3 linked regions of the Homo sapiens genome follow. The protein of the gene in region 1 interacts with the protein of each later gene in a pairwise test. Each region holds a gene or a part of one and is shown on either strand. Other genes may lie near its edges. The genes, in order: ZNF471, CARD14 and PHF20L1.

The links.
Region 2: the proteins of ZNF471 (region 1) and CARD14 interact in a two-hybrid assay, tested with the Homo sapiens proteins (one large-scale study listed by BioGRID).
Region 3: the proteins of ZNF471 (region 1) and PHF20L1 interact in a two-hybrid assay, tested with the Homo sapiens proteins (one large-scale study listed by BioGRID).

Annotation. Positions count from the first base shown.
Region 1 is NC_000019.10:56,506,560-56,510,780, reverse strand, and holds the start of ZNF471 (zinc finger protein 471), read right to left. Parts: upstream 2,927-4,221; 5' UTR 2,861-2,926; exon of another isoform or gene 1-2,860. UniProt on the Homo sapiens protein: May be involved in transcriptional regulation.
Region 2 is NC_000017.11:80,179,921-80,183,565, reverse strand, and holds part of CARD14 (caspase recruitment domain-containing protein 14), read right to left. Parts: intron 2,148-3,645; 5' UTR 2,128-2,147; coding exon 1,917-2,127; intron 914-1,916; coding exon 776-913; intron 1-775. UniProt on the Homo sapiens protein: Acts as a scaffolding protein that can activate the inflammatory transcription factor NF-kappa-B and p38/JNK MAP kinase signaling pathways.
Region 3 is NC_000008.11:132,774,000-132,778,223, forward strand, and holds the start of PHF20L1 (PHD finger protein 20-like protein 1), read left to right. Parts: upstream 1-1,388; 5' UTR 1,389-1,646; intron 1,647-1,939; exon of another isoform or gene 1,940-2,000; intron 2,001-3,792; 5' UTR 3,793-3,829; coding exon 3,830-3,912; intron 3,913-4,224.

The sequences.
Region 1 (4,221 bases):
CCCGGCAACACACAATTCCAAACAGCCACACTCATAAAGAATCCAATCCTATCAATCTTCCAAGTAGTCTCTCCATACACAGCAGTCATACAGGGCCACAATTATGGGTATACAGGGTGACATACAAACACTAACACAGGTTTCATGGTCACACGGAGGACACAATCACAAGCACCCCAAAACAAGCACATATACACAGTCACATTTCCATTGCCTGAGGACATGAATATAAGCACACGTGGTGATTCACCAACACCTTCACACATACCCCCAATCTTACTTCTCTCACACACACAGCTCACTGTCCCTTATCTCTGTCTCACTCACACATGCATGCTTCACAACCTCACAGAGGTTATATTTGTAAAGCCTTTTGGATAACACACCATGGTTCACATAGTTTCTTTCTCACCCATTTTGGTCTCTCACACAACCACATCACTAGTCTTTCTCTCCCTCTTTCACACATATAAACATGATGGTCTCTCATACATACACATTCAATGGTATCTTTCAAAGAGGCCTCAGTTACTCAAATGCTCCAGTGTCTCACACAGATACACAAACACACTCTGATCTCTCATATTCCAACTGCTTTATCTCATGCACACAAAATACATACTGGTCACTCTCACTCCAATCTTTTTCATACTGTGATACACCCTCTCACAACCTACCAGTCCAGACAGAGACATACTCTAGTCTCTCACATACCCATTGGTCTCTCACACACTCACACCAACATACCCCAGTCTCTCCCAATCACTGAACTCTCAGTCTAGTCTCTTGCTTTTACTCAGACACACACATGATCTTTCTCAGACTCCAGGGAGCCTCATACTTGTTCATCTTTCACACAGGCACATCTATTTCTCTCACACATTGATATACCCTGGTCTCACACTCTGGATTCTCACAATCCAGTCCCTGATAACACACTCAGGTGACAAAGAGGAAAAACAAACTGTTTCTCCTACTCCACTCACACAACACAAAACAGTTCTAAGACCAGATGTGTGGGGATCTACACACACACACACACACACACACACACACACACACACACCAGGCAAGCAATAAGTTCTTCAGTGAATACCAGGTGGGTGACCTCTAGGGCAACCCAGTGAATACCAGGTGGGTGACCTCTAGGGCAACCCAATTCTGACACTATCTACCTGGAGACAGCATAAGATCCCACAGGTTGAGGGCTCAGCCCTACAAAATTGCTCCCCACTTCCAATGCCAGTTGCAAACCCCAGGTTGTTTTACTTGTGCTTCTGACTAGCTATAAATCGGGGTTCCTATGACCCCCTCCTTGCGTTCAATTAATTTGCTAGGGCAGCTCACAGAACTTAGGGAAACACGTTTGTAGTAATAAAGGATATTACAAAGGATGCAGGTGAAGAAATGCATAGGACAAGGTTATATAGGAAGGGGCTCATCCTACAGGAACCTCCAGTGTTCAGCTATCTGGAAGTTTGATGAACCCAGTCCTTTTGGGTTTTTATGGAAGCTTCATAATGTAGGCATGACTGGTTAAATCACTGACCACTGATGATCAGTTTAACCTGTGGCTCCCTTTCCTTTCCCTGGAGATTGAGGGATGGGGCAGGTAATCCCAACCCTCTAATCCTGCCTAGATTGTTCTTGTGACCATCCCTTACCGTGATCAACCTACAGGCTGCCAGCCCACCAATCATTAGCATGCAAAAAGACACTTAATACTTTGGAGATTCCAAGGATCTTAGAAGTCGTAAGCCAGGAAACATAACTTTGTCCTATACTTTGATCGCCTCCCTCTCTCTCACAAACTCATAACAACATAACCTAGTCTCACTCTTTGGACTCTCACAGTTTAGTCTCTTTCTCTCTCTCATACACACACACCAGCCTCTCAAGGAGCCTCACATAATGACTGGTCTTTCACACACAGCCACGTGCTCATCTCTCTCACACTCACTGGTCTCACGCTATGTTGTCTCTCACACACGAACACACCCTGGTCTCACACTCTGGTCTCTCTCAGTCTGTCAGACACACATAACACGGCCTCACACACTGACGGGTCTTTCACCCAAAACACCCATTTCTCACACTCACTGGTCTCCCTTTCACACATTAACATACCACAGTCTCACACTCTGTTCTTGCACAGTCTAGTCTCGCATACATGGTGATTCTTCTCTCTCTCGAACACACACCGGCCTCTCATTGAGCCTCACCCACCGACCGACCGGCCTTTCACACACAGGCACACGCCCATCTCTCACACTCACTGGTCTCTCACACTCCATCCAGCCCGTCTCACTCTCTCACACGAATACATCCTGGTCTCACGCTCTGGACACCTGGTCTGTTACACACTTACACACCCACACACCTCGCAACCTCTCACTGAGCTTCACACGCTCTCTTTCAAATGCAGGCACATCCCTATCTCTCTCACACTCACTGGTCTCTCACACTGGCCCGTCTCGCTCTGTCACACACGAACATACCCTGGTCTCACACTGGACTCTCGGTCTGTCACACACACACACACACACACACAGAAACCACACCCTCTCACGGAGCCTCACACTCTGACAGATCTTTTACACACAGGCACACCCCCATCTCTCCCACAGCTCACTCCAGTGGTCCCGCCGCCCCAAGCCGCCCCGAACGCCCAGCAGCCCCGAGCCGCGGCCTCCGCCCCGCAGACTCGAGTACGCGCGCCCCGCTGGCCTCTGGGAAATGTAGTCGTCCTGGGGACAGAGGACGCGGCTGGGCCTTCGCGACCCGCGTCGGAGCCGCCCGCCTCGCCTGCCCTTCCTGGCCCAGCCCTCGAGCTCGGACTCCCAAACCACCCAAAACAAACCCCCGGCCTCGTCTGGCACCCAGACGCTCTCATCCGAAGGACTCCGTGAGTCGACGCTGGAACCCCCCATCGCGCAGGCGCCAGCCTCTCTCCAGGGGTCGGACGAGAGGGGCGGAGACAAGGCGTGGCCTAGTGTTGAGGGGATTGTCCTCGGGCTGCTGAAGGAGTGAGAGGGACCTTAGAGCAGAGCGGGCGGTGCCTGCGCAGTGCGTGATTACGCGAGCCGGGCGTGGCCCAGGGTTCCGGCGGGTAAGAGCAGGAGTGTGCGCAGGCGCAAAGATTGCGCTCTCCCCCTCTCCTCGCCTAGAGACCAGAAGCGTCCCTAGTTACTAGTTCCTGGGGCCTGGGAGGGAAACGCGCGACGGCTGAGCCTTCGGTGTGAGTACGCGTGGGGCTTTGTGACGCTGTCTGTGCCTCTGTGATCGCGATGTCATTCGGAGCGCGGCCTTCTGTGCCAGTCCGTGGGAGTGTCATTATCTTTCTGTGTTAAGCTTATTTTGGAATAAGACAGCGACGAGGAACCCCGACCGTGTTGTGACTCTGGCGAATTAATACCTCTTTCAGCTGCAAATGGGAATGTCACTGATCAGAGGCAGTGAATAACACGACGTTTTTGGAACCAATCTGCTAGGCTTGAACCGCGTTCAGCCCCTTAACAAAATGGAAATGGTCCCCGTTTTAGGGGACTAGCCCTGACTAGGAGAACTGTAGAATTAGTATTGGAAGGTGAGACAAATAAGGAAAAGCAATTCAGGGGGATACAGCAGAGAAAAAAAAATCCCTGTCCTCTTATTATGTAATTTACTTTGAAGCGGAGAGAGACAAGCCACAAATTCATGAGTTAGATAAACAGTCTGATGAACAGTAAAAAGGGCTATGGAGAAATATAACTCAGAGAAGGTTGTATCGTATACATTTTTTCTATTGTCTCTTATAATGTCTTAACATGTCAAAAAAACCTGTCTGCAGCAGACACCAGCCAGGTGACCGCTACTCCAATTCAATTCTGACGCTACCTGGAAAACATCAGATCCTACAGGTTAGACAGCTCAGTCCCAAAAGACTGTCCCCCACTTCCCATGCCAATTCCAAACTCCAGATTGTTGTACCTGTGTTTCAGAGAGATGTGCTATAAATTGGGGCTCCCACAGCCGGCTCCTTGGGTTCCATTAGTTTGCTAGAGCAGCTCACAGAACTCAAGGAAACACTTATGTTTACTGGTTTATTATAAAAGATATTTTAAAGGATACAAATAGCCAGATGAAGAGACATGTAGGGCAAGGTCCGAGAGAATCCCTAGTGCAGGAACTTCTGTGCCCGTGGAGTTGGGGTGCACCACCCTCCCAGCACGAGGATGTGTT
Region 2 (3,645 bases), on another chromosome or scaffold:
CTCCCGATTTTGGCACGAGGGTTACCCACTCTGACCTTCCCCGTGAGACCCCACTGTTCAGACTTAATGACCCTCCTCGGTAGCTGAAATGCACTCAGTGCTAACTCATTTTAACGTTATCCTGAGAAAAAGATAAAAAAAGAATACGAATCCGCGTACTAGAACTCTAAAGAACATAAACACACACCGTGCTGGAACACAGGGAAAATGGTCTATTCTCCACTGTTTTGGGTCGTGTGAGTCCTGCTCCTGCTCCTTTCAATACCTAAATCTTTCAACAGCTCCTCCAGGGAAGCCTAGAATTACTCCCTGAAGGAAAATGGTGAGCAGTGCACAGAAGGCTCCGCGGCCCTGCCAAGGCCCTGTACCCTCTGGCCGGGGCCGCTCTGTCGCCTCCTAAGAGCTGAGGCTGGGCCGTTCTGGCCCCTCCAGCAAAGCCGCAAGGTTAAAGGCGGACTCCAGGAGACACTCCCTTGCCCTTTGCTTGTGTCTCTCCAAGCAGATTCTCCCCACCCTACCGCTCAGGGGTCTCCTTTTGGCACTGGGTAACTAAGGACCGACCCTTCAGAGTCAAGGCCCAGGGGCTCCTTATCCTATCCAACCCCAATACAGTGAGGGGGTTCCTCACCCTCAGAGTGCTGGGGCTGGGACAGGAACTGCAGCCTGGAGGGAAGGGGGAGTAGGGCAAATCGGCAAGTAAGCGGGGCACCTGGGGTTACCAGGAGCCTGAGGTTCCTAGAAGTGCCTGCCAAACCGTCAAAGTCGGAGCTCTCACCGCTAAAGTTACTGAAGTCAACATCAGGCTGCAGCCCGGTGACCAGGGTGTAGACGTCAGGGTTGTGGAACTTCAGGCTCTCCAGGAAGGCGATGGCCCCGTTCTTCCCTCGAGTCTTCAGCAAATCCAGCAAGTGCCCTTGGGAGGCAGAACCGTCTGTCTGGGCAGAACCCAGCTACCAAGGGGGCTGGGCTCCCTGGCTGGCTTCCCCACGGGGGAGAGGCCTGGGGCTGGGAAACCCCCCGCACATGTAAGAATCGGGAGGTGAAAGCGGTTTTCTGGGTTCTGCTGGGTGGGACGCGCCCTCACTGCTCTCACAGGCTCCCTTTACCCCCATGACCTCAGTCAGACTCGAGAAGGGCAAAGCTGGCATGTATCGAGCAACTACTGCAACCCCAGTGCTCTGGCGAGTGCGGGGGGACCGGGACGGGGTGAGGAGGTGGGTCCCTGCTTGCAAGCACCTCCCTGGCAAGCTGGTGGGTGATGCAGACGCAGGGTCCCACCACGGTGCTGTCAGCTTTGGAGCTGCGCACAGAAAGCAGAGTGGCACCCCGGGGCTGCGGGTGACAGGTCCCAGAGAGCCTCGGGGCCTTCCACGCCCAGGGCCCAGAGCCCATCTCTCTCAGCCAGAATGACCAGCGTGCATCAATCTCTCCTGTGTTTGGGGTTCGTACGCCAACATGCATGAACATTATCATGTTGACAGCTACCACCTACTGCCTGTTTTCTATGGCCCCAGCTTTGCAGTGAGTGTTTTATAAACAGTAACTCATTTGCTTCTCCTAACAACCGTATACAGTAAAGCCATTACCATCCCCATTTTTTAATGAATAAACACTAGTCAGACCATCAGAATGGACTCCAAAGACAGCTGTAGTGGTGTGAATGGTGGTTCCCCTTCAAAGACACATCCACCTGGAACCTGTCCAGATGACCTTTTTTGGGAAAAGGGCCTTTGCAGATATAAGTTAATGATTTCAAGATCAGATCATCCTGGTTATCCAGGTGGGCCCTAAAGGCAACAGCAAGTGTTTTTATAAGAGACAGGACGAGAAGAGACCCCCTGAAGACAGAGGCAGACAGTGGAGCCATGTGGGCCACGGGAAGCTGGAAGAGGTGGGGAAGAGGGAGCTGCGCTCACCGGCCCGCATGGCGCTGTTGGTGAGCCGGGGGCTGTGCAGCACCTCCTCCTCGTCCAGCTGGCACAGCACCTTGGCCTGGCGCAGGTAGGGGGTGAGGCGGCTGGGGCAGATGCAGCGTACGATCCTGTGGCGGTGGCTCTCCATCATCTCCCACAGTGTCTCCTCGTCCAGTGCCGTGAGTGCGGAGTCCCTGCGGCACAGTTCCCCCATGGCTGGGCGCTGGGAGGACCCTAGGAGGGGTGGCCATGGGGGTGGAGTTGTCAGGTAAGCAGGACCCCAGGATAGCCAGGGTGACACCGTTTTAAAATCAACTCCATCGTAAAATTAGCAAGGCGCACTCTTTGCCAGTCAGAACCCACAGTCTTGAGATGTTTACGGCAGAGGAAGCATTCCAGTGGCCATTTGCCATTCTGGTTTCTCCCTCTGTGTAAGGTTGAGTGCCACGGCCCCACCTGCTCTACCCCAATCCTAAGCAATAAAGTCACTAAATCACACTTTGTTGTGTCAGTTACAGCTTTTTCTAAAAAATTAAAGTAAATAAATACTTTTTTTTTTTTTTAGAAATTCATCTAAAATAATGGTAGTAGGCTAGGCGTATTGGCTCACGCCTATAATCCCAGCACTTTGAGAGGCGAAGGGGGAAGGATTGCTCAAGCCTAAGAGTTCGAGACCAGCCTGGCAAATATGGTGAAACCCTGTCTCTACTAAAAATACAAAAATTAGTCAGGCATGGTGGTATGCACCTGCAATCCCAGCTACTTAGGAGGCTGAGGCAGGAGGATCACTTGAGCCTGGGATACAGAGGTTGTGGTGAGCTGAGATTGTGCCACTGCACTCCAGCCTGGGTGACAGAGGGAGACCCTGTCCCGGTAAACAAACACACAAACAAACAAACAAACAAACAAATAACAGTAGGGGTGCTGCACTTTGGAAATGCTGCTTTATAAGTTCTTTATGAAAGGTAATTTTCATTAGAAGCAAGACTGTCGGCTTCTCTAGAGCCGAGATCGTGCCACTGCACTCCAGCCTGGGCAACAGAGCAAGACTCTGTCTAAAAAAACAAAAAAAAAAGTTCCCATTGTTTTCAACTACGCAGCAGGTGGTCCCTTGTTTGCAGCGGCCCAGGACAGTGACACAGAGGACTGCGCAGAGGACTCCACATGAGGGAAATGTGCTGGGGAGTGACACTGGGCACAAGTGCCTCGCAGAAGACACTTCAGGGTAGTAACGGCCAGCACGGCTCGGCTGCGGGGGGTGTGGGCTTACAAAGATGGCGAGGCAGACAGAGGGTGGACAGGTCCCCGAAAGGGCTGAGCTGCAGCTGATCTGGGGCCACCACCAGGGCTGATGTCCCAAGCCCAGGTCTGTCTGGACAGAATACACGAAGCAGGTCGCCGTTACAGCCCGGAACACCTGCTCTTCAGGGGACATGCTGGCTAGTGCAGACTCTAAGAGCTGTTGGAGGTCCTCAGCCGTCACCTGCCCAGCCTCCCATCCCAGCGAGAGATGAGCTGTGTACCCCACTGTGCCCCTGCCTGAGCCCCTCTCTGGCATCAACATGAGGCCATTAGCCCATTAATCCATCTAAATAATTTTAAAATGTTTTAAAACTGTGCACTGTTTTCAGCATATTAAAAAATCCTGCAAATAACAAATATCCACATATCTACCATGCGGATTCAACCATCTTGACATTCTGCACTTCAGGTTTCTTTTTAAGGAAATGCG
Region 3 (4,224 bases), on another chromosome or scaffold:
GATGGTAGAGCAGCTATCATCTCAAGCAGTGCTTTACACTGTGCCAGAGACAGAAACTTTGGTGAGCTGGCATTAAAAATTACCAACTGGCCATGACAAATCTCACTTCTAATTACATTTTATCAGCCAAAGCAAATCAAATAGCCATACATAATTCTAAGGAGGGTGGAAAGTATAATCCTGTCATGTCCTAAGGAAGATGCTACAAGTATTTGGTGTTCTGAACTAATGCAACCATGATGAGAAATTTCTCAAACATGGAAAGAGAGTTGAGATGCTGGGCAACCAAAAAACAAGATAACAAATATCCACTAGAGACTGTCTTATTTATATCTTTTCTATAACAAATATCCACTAGAGACTGTCTTATTTATATCTTTTCTATGTATCACCATGCTCAGTCTAGCTCAGTAGCTATTAGTGACTTAGTAGATGCTGAATGAATGTTTGTTGAATAAAAAAAGAATGATTGTTTAATTTACCAAATCTTACTATAACTGAAGCTTAAAGAGAGTTACTTTGCTATTTTAACTCCACACTATGAAGCAAGATAAATATAAGTGACATTTGTATGCAACGTTGCACTTGAAAACCAGAGTGGTACAGTGGAAACCAAGAGAAAAAAGATGTTTCATTTCAATATTATTTTCAATGTGTTCACTTATTGGTTTCTCCCCACAGCAAGGATACTGTCTCCTGTGCTTAGTAAAGTTTGGGAGGGTAGGTATTCGATAAAAGCAGTTCTGCTATCATTAGCTGTGTAGTCTTGGGGAAGTGATATCAATGTAGCCATAGGTTAAGGTTATTCAGCTGTGCCTGAGCACGCGCGTACACACATCTTAGTAATATTCGTCTTTGTATTGTAAAGATCTCCAAGACTGGAAAGCAATACAATTGTAATACAGTTGTACAGTTGTGATTGTCATGTGACATATTTACAGCCTAGTGTCTATCACAAAGCATCCATTCAAGGGAGGTTTATTGATTTTGTAGTAGTAACCATGCTCTATTCTTGATGTGGAGTGGGATGGATATCTAAGAAAGCATGTAATGCATTTGAAAAAGTTTGCCAAGGGTCCTGGGTAAAGGGGTTTTGGTGACGTGGTTCCCAACGAATCAAGAATAATAAACAATGCCCTTCGTCCTCAAATCTCAAAGGTCAAATACTTCACAACTACCAATAGGCACCAAGAGCTCGCGTTCTTTCCTCCAGTAACCAGAGCCCCGCCCGCTAGCGGTCCGTCAACGACCGCAAAGCCCCGCCTCCTACGGCGGCCCGCCAATCGGCTGCGCGGCCCGGGCCCAACCCTCGTGAGTCACGTGACAAGGCCAGGCCCGCTTCCGGCACGTCGCGGGCGGCTGACGTCGCCGGGGCCCGGCGTCGCGTCAGGGCTGGCCGGCGGCGGAGGCGGCGGCGGCGGCGGCGATGGCAGCGGACCCTGAGCGAGCTTGAGGGCTCGGACCCAGCTCCCTCCCGCGAAACCTTGGGCGGATCCGGCGCTGCGGCCCCAGCTCGCTCCGCTCCTGCTCCCTCCCCGGCCGCTGCCTGGGCGGAGGCAGAGGCAGAGGCCCGGGCTGGCCGCCCTGCTCGTGCCCCAGCTCGGCCCCGGACGGCCCGGCTGCTGTGCAGAGAGGAGGCCGAGTCGGTAAGAGGCGGCGGCGGCTGAGCCGGCAGGCCGCCTGGCCCCCGCCGGGCCGCCCGGGACGCCCCCATTCTGGTGTCTCTCTTTCCGGCCCGCTCCCCTCCCGCCTCCCTCCCCGTAACTCGCCGGCCCTATTGTCTGGGCGCCGCAGCTCCCTCTTCCCCTCCCTTCCTTACCCCCCTGCGGAGGGCCGGATGGCTGTCAAACCTGGAGGCTTCTCCAGCTCCCTGCCAGCCCTGTCAGCCTTTCCTGCCTGTCTCGTGCCACCCCCTCTCTGTCTGGCCTCACCTCCTCACCTTTTTTGGCCTGGCGGTCATTCTCTGACCATTGCTTTACATTGTCGGTCTCTATGTCTTCTTGCTCATTTCTTCTTCCCTCTAACTTGTCATCTCCGAAAACTTCCACTGTCCTATTTCTTGCCATTCTTTGCTCCTTTCCTTACTGTTTTTACTCCTCTCCGTGCTTTCTGCCTTGTTTTTGCTTCAAGTTTTACTCCCAGTAGACTGTCTTACTTTATGAAAGTTCCTTAATTCAAATCCCTCTTCATCCTTCCCTCTTCGAACCTAAGACAAAGGAAAATCTTGTTTTTTTTCTGGTACTTCATCCCTAAGTGTCACTGGGGGATTATACTCATTCAATCCATCACTTAATTATGGGCTCTAAGTTTGATTCTAGATGTTAGTGTACCTTGTGAACTATCCCTTACTGAATTCTTCCTGTGACAGACAGCAGAAAAGGTTGATTCGATTTCTACACAAACATTTAAGTAACTGCCTTACGTGTTGCGCACTGACAAGACCTCTATTAAAAATATTCATACATTTGTTCTTTTGCACCAGCTACACCCTGGGCAAGCTCCCTGTTAACTTTTTAATGCTCTAATATTTGCTTATACCATAGCAGGAGGATACCCACTCTCCCCCTCCAACCATGGGTATTTGAGTTCGCATATTTTCATGGCCAGTATTGATGCTATTTTTTCCCTTACCTATCAGACTCTTTCAAAGAGAAAAGAGGGAGCAGTTGGAATTTTATGTTTGTTGTTCTATTTTGTCTATTATGAATTGTGACAAAACCATTATAAAAGATGACAAGTGTGTGTGTTTCTTTTTTTCTTTTTAAACTGTAGGGAACATAGTCATTAGTGATCTCAAATACCGAAAGACATTTTACGGATCTCTCCTCGCCCCTGATAACAATCAATTTACATTCTTAATTATGAGTTATGTTTTGATTAGGTTATCTCAAAATGTATTCATATTCCTCACATACCCATTAGTGAAAAAGAGGCCACCTCAAGTGTGCTCGGTGGCCACTGTGGCCCAAAATATAGTACTTTGCATGTGAATGACCTAGGGATACATAGGTACTCCTTTGCAGTTTTTGTTCTAGCATTACAACCACTTTTATTATCAATGTGGACACTGTCTAAATTGAAATATAGTAGAAATACTCAGTTAACAAAAGCATGTTATTATTGCTTGTTGAATGTAAAGTATAAGAAAGCAGTCTCTTTTGTAATACTGTATGTTAAATTAAAATTATTGAATTATGTGCTACCAAGGTGGGAGATCATGGGTAATGAAAAATCCTAATCCCAAGAGGAATTAGTGGTATCTTCACTGGCAGAGGAGTGTGCCTACTGTTTCCTCCATCTTTGTGTGCTGTAGGGCCTTATCTAGTGTTTTGTATTATGAGGCACTCAACAAATATTTGTTGAAATTAAAAATTGATTTTGTTCTCAAGAATTTCAGTAGTCCTATTCCAGAACACTCAGCTGTCTTAATTTTTCAAAGGCAGGAAAGCATTTTCAGCTCTCCCCGTGGAGAATTTTCTTGGGTATCTGGAAGCTCAAATGTAAAGCATTTTTAGCTATTAACAATTTTTAACAGTCCATTTACTCATTCTTTTTAGATAGTTTTCTTTGTTCTTTTTCTTAAATCATTATCAAGATTGCCTGCAGATTGCACAGAACTTTATATAGAGATGTTGGTAATACTCCTTCAAATTTCTTAACAATTTGGCAAGTATTTCATATTCTCATGTATTGTTTTAGAAATTCTGTTTAATTTTAATTTGACCTGTTCCCTTATACTCTACTTCCTATGCATTTTCTGCATTGGAATCTAACTTTTTTCTTTCTCTTGAGGTAGTGAAAAGAGAATACTGAAGAATAGGATCTCAAGATGAGTAAAAAGCCCCCAAATCGCCCTGGAATCACTTTTGAGATTGGTGCTCGTTTGGAGGCACTGGACTACTTACAAAAATGGTATGGAAAATATAGAACTTTCACCTAAATATCACAATATCTGTAGCCTTACATATGTTAATTAAAACAGTAAATTCCACTGATGGTAGCAGAAACATCAGTGTATTCACATTTCGATTACACATATATGTTGTTTTTTAGTTTTCCTACTCTTTAGGCTTTTTAGGTTTAGCATTTAAAAACTATTTTTAGTCAACTGACTAAATTATTTAGAACAATCATTTTTGGTGTTTGAGAAATGAAAATAATTGTCTAGAGTATGCGGTTTATGTATACCTCATGTATACCTCACATGAGCTGTATTGGTGGAAG